2 linked regions of the Homo sapiens genome follow. The protein of the gene in region 1 purifies or fractionates together with the protein of each later gene. This does not show direct contact. Each region holds a gene or a part of one and is shown on either strand. Other genes may lie near its edges.

The links. Proteins that work in one complex are often made in the same cells at the same time.
Region 2: the proteins of TCEAL1 (region 1) and USP11 purify together in Homo sapiens (affinity purification with mass spectrometry; 6 studies listed by BioGRID, with this or other methods). This does not show direct contact.

The regions. Positions count from the first base shown.
Region 1 is NC_000023.11:103,627,112-103,630,860, reverse strand, and holds the start of TCEAL1 (transcription elongation factor A protein-like 1), read right to left. Parts: upstream 1,887-3,749; 5' UTR 1,836-1,886; intron 1,368-1,835; 5' UTR 1,288-1,367; intron 977-1,287; 5' UTR 945-976; coding exon 465-944; 3' UTR 1-464.
Region 2 is NC_000023.11:47,230,877-47,234,625, reverse strand, and holds the start of USP11 (ubiquitin carboxyl-terminal hydrolase 11), read right to left. Parts: upstream 1,618-3,749; 5' UTR 1,583-1,617; coding exon 1,407-1,582; intron 1-1,406.

The DNA.
Region 1 (3,749 bases):
ATATATTTTTGCAACACAAGTAAAACGTTTGTCCTGAAAAAATGAGAAATTCAGATAAAACAAAAATTTAAAAAATCACCTATTATCTTACCACACAACCACTGTTATGCCTTTGAAGTCTATACTTTTAGCTTTTTCTTTGCATATTAATATATAAATATACATTTTTTTTACAAAAATGGGATACAATATATACCATTTGAAAATTGCTTTTTTCGTTTCACAATATATAATGTACATCTTTCATGCAAATGTGTAGGGCTCATGACTGAAAGAGGGAAACTTGTAGATTTTAGGGGGAAACCTCAACTTTAAGCGAGTTACATGCTAAACATCTAAAATAAAGCCTCACAAAAAGTTAAAATTCAGAATATGGGAAAAGGCATTAAGAAAATGCAAACAGAAAGTCCAGGTGGCAATGGCAATACTATTAGCAGGCAAAACAGAATTAAAGGCCGAACACATTAAATAGGATAAGGACGGCTCCGTTTTGCCTTCCAGTGCATTATCATCAGTTTGTTTCTTACTCTTTTCATCTCTTCTAGCTCATCTGCTGCCTGTATCATCTCCTCATTGCTTAAATTTCTGCCATGTATGTCCCCTCTAAATTGCGGGCGAGAACGAGCCAACCTTTCTTTAAAGCTTCCTTCTTCAAGCTTATGTTTTCCTACTCCACAAGGAGGCTGCTCCATGGGAGGGCGCCCCTCAAACAGGTCCTTCCTGGAAAGACCCTCCTGCGGAGGGCGCTCCTCCGAGAGGAGCATCTCAGGCAGGAGCTCAGGCAAGAGCTCCTCAGGAAAGAACTCCTCCTCCGAGGACTGCTCCTCCGAAGACTGCTCCTCGGGGGACTGCTTTTCGGGAGAGTGCTCCACCGGAGGCCTCTCCTCATCGGTCTTGGGCGCGCTCTGCGGCTCTTCTTCATTTTCTTTGCGTGGTTTGTCCATGTTGGGAATTTTCTTCTTCAAGCACAGTTATTCTTAGGAGACAAGAAAGGCAGAATAGAGTCAGAATACTAAGCGGCTGGACTAACACCCAGGCCGTGGGTTCCAATACCTGCCTTTTCCTGATTCGGGGGCCAGGTCCTCAACCTTGCGCTTTCCCAGAGGCTCTCCGGCTCTCCCGACTCCGCCGCTTCCCGGTCGCCCCCTCCTTCCCGAAAGCCCACCATTTTCCCAGCAGGCTTTGCTACAGGCCTCGCCCGCAGTGACAGGGGCGGGACAGTGCGGCCTGCAGACTCCATGCCTTTCGGCGTCCACCCTCGCGCCCCAGTCCCGGCCCACTGCGTACCCCTTCCCTGACCTGGACCTTTCCGGGCCGTGTGCTCCTAGTCGTCCTCTCCTCGAGGTGCCCCGCTGTGACCAGCAGACCTGCACACAGACGCAAGACAGGGTAGGGGGCGGGGAGTGGGGAGGAGGGACGGACTGACTGACACCCCCCACCCCCCACTTTCTGGGCACCAGCCACTGCCTGCACGCTCCCCTAGCTCTCGGGTTCTCTTTTCGTCTCAGCCCCTGCGTCAAGCTTCGTCCTCCGTGCTCCCACCTCCCCACCCCGCAAAGCTTGCCATTTCTTTTCAGATGAGAAGTGGAAGCGAAGCATTTTTAGAAACTATTTCCAAATGTCTGTACCCCCCTCCCGGGGGACGGGGGAGGTACTCGCCTCCCCACCCCGCCCCAAAGACCACCATATTTTGCACAGAAATGTGGGCGCGGGGGGCGGGGCTGGAGCTTAGGGAAAGGCCTGGACTCCGCCATCCCGATTCTGTCAACCCCATTCCCCGGGTTACTAGGCAGCGCCGACACTCACACCGATTTAAGAGGGTAGAGGGAACTTACTTCTTCTGCTTTCCCTCTCGACCAAAGGGTAATAGGGAGATGGTGGACAGGCAAAAAAAAGACCGGGACGAGAGGGACTTGGGCACATAGAGGCTCCTGGTCACGTGAGGGACGCGCGTCACTGCCGAACTCAGATCCCCAGTTACCACTTTGATCTGCGGCCCTGCCGCAGCCACCTGCTAGTGCCTGCTAGTGTTCTCTGACCCGAGACACACCAGGCATTGTCACTCACCTCTCTTTGTATTTGCCTTTTCCTGGTTGCCAGAGACGGTCCGCATCTAGTCTCGGGTAGTATTGCCTCTTCCTCTGTGCTACTTCCCCTAGTACCACCTCTTTCTCCCCTCCTCCCTTCCTTAGCCACCAAGGCCCCTTATTTCCCCTGCAGTTCAGATCCTGCACTGACGTTTGACTGTTCACCTTCATAAATCAGTATTATATCCTTATATCCCAACACTCTCAGTTTTAATCCACATCCGTATCTCCATCATGTCCATTTAGGCTCATTCAGCATGTTTCATCTCTTGTCACTTTCATGGGAGACAATCTTTCACTTTTTCTTGACATCACATTTTGTTTTTTTGAGCCCCCAGATCTAAATTGGTAATCATTCAGTTCGAGACCTGTAGAAAGAGTTGAGTTTGTAAAGTTTGTAGATCTAAAAAGAATGAATACTTTGATTTTCATAAATCAAATACGTATTTGTCCATCTAAGTACAAACAGTCCAGAACACTTATTATCTGAAATGGGATAGTCCTTGGTGGAGAGCTTGGCATTATTCTCTCTATGTGTGTATATATATACACACATATATATGCGTGTATATATATACACGCATATATATGCATGTATACACACTGAATAGATTATAAAATATATTTATATACATGTGTACATATATATAAATTATTCAGTAGTTATTCATAATAGAATAAATAGATTTTACTGGGACTCTCAATCCTTAACCAGCCACCTCTTGGTGCTTCTGGTTGAGGAAGTTTATATTAATTCACTAAATCAACAAATATTTGAGTTCTGGGACTGCTGGACCCCAAAAGATAGATGCAGCAGGGAGGGCATTCCATATTAAACTATGCAATAATTCTGTTGACCACATACTGAATAGCAGGACTACAATTATGCTAGCATTTTCAATTGTCATTGCAATATGTATTTTTTTTTATCTAACAGTATTTTATGATCTTTAACCTTATGCCTGCCTCTCATCTACTCACATCAGCCTGGATGCTACTTTCTTATGCAGATGCTCTTTCCCCTACAGAGCATACTACTTCCCTTCCCTCTGTGTTTTACACTTTCAGGGTAGATGACCATCTGATCTGTGAGGATCCTGGGATTTTGTTTTAAAGCCAGGCTGTTTAGTAAGTTTCTGAACAGAAATTCATGTGAAATTTCCCCTTTTAAGAACTGTTTGTTGCTTTTCTCTGATATCTGATTAACTTTGTGTTGAGATAGCATTTAGACAAATATTAGTTTACCTTCATATCTTTTTTATAACTGTTTTACTTTCCAATTTCTCTGTGAGATGTGTCTTTAAAACCAAGTTTCACTATGCCTTCTTATTTTTTCATCAAGGGTTGGTTTCTCATTTGTATAGTTTCTTTCCTAGAGAAGTCCCATTTCATTCATTTCTATCCTTATTCTTCTTAAATCCTGTGATGGAGAACTCACTGCCTTATAAGATATCTCACTGAAATCTCAGAAAGTTCTAATCATTCAGAGTTTTAAAATTAATTAATTAATTGATTTTTGCTTCTGTTGAGTTAAAATCTGCCTCCCAGTAGTTTACACACATTGGTCCTGGCTCTGCCCTGTGGAGTGGTACAGAACAGGTATAAAATAATAAAAGTACCTTTCATCCTTGACAGCTTAAAATTGCCACAGCTTCTATTCTG
Region 2 (3,749 bases), about 56 Mb from region 1:
ACATCTCCCCAATTTTATTTCCCCTCGCCATATATAAATTTATATATGCTAATTTTTCAGGCATTTGAGAATAAACTGCTTACACGATGCGTTCTTATCCCTAAATTTTTCAGTATTTCCTATAAACAAGGATATTATTTTTCACAGCCACAATGATCACAATTATTAGTAGTACTAGTATCTACCCACTTTAATAAAATTTCACCGACGTTTCCATTGCCTTTTACAGTAAAAGAGACAAAAATAATCTTATGATAAAAAATTGATTTTTAAAATAATTTTTTTTTCTGTTCCAGGATCCAATCGAGGATCACATGTTGCATTTAGTTATCATGACTCGTTAAATTGCATTAATTCCTTCAATTTGGAACAGTTCTTCAGCCTTTGTCTTTCATGATCCTGACATTTTTGAAGAGTGTAGGCCGTTTATTTTAACAGGATGTCCGTCAATCTGGGCTGCGTAAATGTTTTATATAATCTTTTTAAGTCTTACGTATTTCACAATTAAAAAACGAGATGCAACTCGGCGAGAAATAAAATGAACTCAGAAGCAGTAAATTTCAAGAAGGACTGTTTAGCAAGAAATCAGTAAAACAAGCCGATTTATCAAAATTCTATTTTTTAAAAAAACGACTTTTTCTTGATTCTAAAAACAAAACAGTACCAACACAGAAAACCAATTAAACATGGAAGGCCCCTCCGGTGCTAATCACCTGCACGTTCTCTCGACTCGGGAAGGCTTCCGCCAGAATCAAAAACCACGGCGCGTCATAAACTTTGCTTATTCGCAGGCGCCATTTTCTGCCTCATAGGCACCACCTCCCCTCCACTGTCGTCCCTCGGCCTCAGAGCACGCCCCTCAGCTCACGTCACCAACCTAACCTCGTTCCCAGGCTCCAGGCTCCTCCCCCCTCCCCCACGGAGGTCCCCGCTCCCTCCCTCGGACCGTTCGGCTCCATCCCGCTCTTCTGCTGACGTCACAAAGCTCGCCTCGTTCCCAGCCGCCCCGGAGCAATCGGAAACCGCTCCTCGCCCCCAAAAGTTGCATTACGCAGCGCAGGCCGCGCCCCCGCCTTATGTAGCAGAACCCACCTTCTTCCCAGGTTCCTACGCAGTTTCACTACGCAGGCCCGGCCCCACCTCCAGGACCGAAACTGGTCTCATCACAACAAACCCCATTTTGTTCTCAGGCGTCAGACTGCACCACACAGGCCCCGCCCCTTTTCCAGACGTTGCGATTCATTCAAAGGCACTTCCCCGCCCCTTTAGCCCGCTGTCCCGCCGGCCACTCCCCCGCCCCCGCACCCCGCAGCAGCTTTCCCGCGGCCCTCGGCCGCCGAATCCCCAGCGGTTGTCAATGCCCCCACCGTTCCCTCTGCCGAGGCTCCACCGCAGCCCAGCCTCACCAGCTTTCGCCGGCCCGCAGTGGACGTTCTCGCCCACTCTCGCCGTTTTCTATCTGGCGCCACTGGCTGTCCAGGCCTGGCAGCTCCTCGTGCTGTGGCTCTCTATCCTCAGTCACCGCCGCTGCCGCCGCCACAGCCGCCGCAGCAGCAGCTGGATTTGCTGCGACCGTCGCCATCGCCGTCCGTTCTCTTCTACAGCCAACGCAGCTGTGCGAGATTGGAAGACGCCCCTCAACAGCCACTTCCGGATTCTGGTCCCGGAAACGGAAGCAGAGCCCCCCAAACAGTCGCGGGGCTACTGCCATATTGGAAATGGCCCCGTGCACAGACGCGTCGAAGGGCTAGGTGGGGTAAAATCTTCAGTGGGAACCAAGAAAGACAAAAGTGCCTTGTGGGGTCCTAACGCCCTGTAGACTTAGGGCACAGGTGGCATGGAAAGTGGAGGCTGAGGTTCCCGAGGTGGGCTAGGACTCCTACCCTGGGAGCAGTGTTTTTGTTAGCCTGATCAGAATGCCCTTCATTGTACCATCAAAACCCAATGCAAAAGAGGTTTCCACCTCCAGAGACCCACCGAGGCCTGCGGGCTGTTGTTTCTCTTCCTGAACTAGATTTATTCACTAGACAAGGTGTTGAAGACAAGTTAGCCCCAGGCCCTATGTTTGTTGGAGTCATAGCAATCATAACTAAACTAGCTGTCCGCCCAGTTTAAGTGCTTTATTGGACTAAAATAGTAGCCTCAGGCAGCAGGTACTGTCCTTGTCACCCATGGGTAACAATGGGGACGCTGAGTACCAGAAACGTCCCTCAGCTAATTAGTGGTGGAGCTGCAGTTTAGACTTGAGAAATCTGGTTTCAGAGCTGTGACCTTAAACACCAGGCCAAACATTCTCCAACCGTGTGGTCCCAGTGGTCCCAGCCTGTCTACCGGTCCAAAAATCCTCTTGGGGTTTCACAAAATGAAAACTATTTTCACAATACTTTTTCACTCTCATTCTCTCAGGGGTGTACAGTGTGATTATCCAGAGGCTTCTGAATCCAGAGGCTATATGACATAAGCAAAAACTCTTTTGAATATCTTAAACTTTTAAGAACATAAAGGAATCCCGAGACCCAAAGTTTGAGAACCCTTGGACTAGGCCAGGGTCTCTCAACCTCAGCACTGTCATTTCTTTGTTGTGGGCATTGCAGGATATGTAGCAGCATCCCTGGCCTCTACCTACTAGATACCAAGTAGTACCCCTCAGGACAACCAAGTATCTCCAGACATTACCAAATGTCCTTTGGGGGAAAAATGTCTCTGGTTGAGAACCACTGCTCTAGGCTATGCTATTCTTTCCTCTGCTGGGGCTGCCAGCCCCGTTGATGATGACTTTAATTTCGAACCTCCCTTCCCCCTCACAATTTCATAATTTACCTATTTTCAGTTAATCTCTGCGGGGCAGGGATTGTGTCTTTATTACTGTGATTCCAGCCCCCAGCCCAGACCTGGCATAGATGAGGGGTCACAAACTCAGTTGTGTAAGCTCTGGGTGAGGAAAGGGAGCAGGCCTTTCACTTAAGGGTCCCCAAAGAAAGTGGCATTTGAGTTGAGTCAGACACATGGCAGATAGCTGCTCTTCAAGCCCAGTTGAATCTTGTCAGATTCTCTGAATTGATTCTCCCCATTGCCCCTCTGCAGACTCCCCCTCCCCATTTATCTGGGCAGCCAGGTAAATCCAAGAGACCTCCTTTCCCAGCCCTAGACCGTTTTTTTTTTTCCACCTTCCAGAGGCCAACCTCTGCCCACACCAGTGACCCTACCACTTCCCAGAGCAGTTGGGTGAGTTCTAGACCTTTTAAATCCAGCCTGGCAATCCTGTCCCCCTTTGCAAGGCCCTCCTTTTCCCATCCTCCCTTGCTGCCAGAAGTGGCCATGTCATCTGATTCTAGCCAAGAAATGGCACAGGAAGTCTGCTGAGGAGCTTGTGGAAGTTCCAGCCGTTAAAAGAACACAGACAGGTAAGGAAGGTGTTCTGTCTTCCCTGCTTGCTTTTCCATCTCTGGGGACATGGCAGTCATCATGGCACCATGAGGCTGCAAGCTGAAACATCACTAAAGTGCTTAGAAAGACACGGTAGAGGCTGGGCTTGGTGGCTCACACCTGTAATCACAGCACTTTGGGAAGCCGAGGTGGGTGGATCACTTGAGGTCAGGAGTTCGAGACTAACCTGGTCAATATGGTGAAACCCCATCTTTACTAAAAATAAAAAATTAGGTGGGCGTGGTTGTGCACGCCTGTAATCCCAGCTACTCAGGAGGCTGAGGCAGGAAAATCGCTTGAACCCAGGAGGCAAAGGTTGCAGT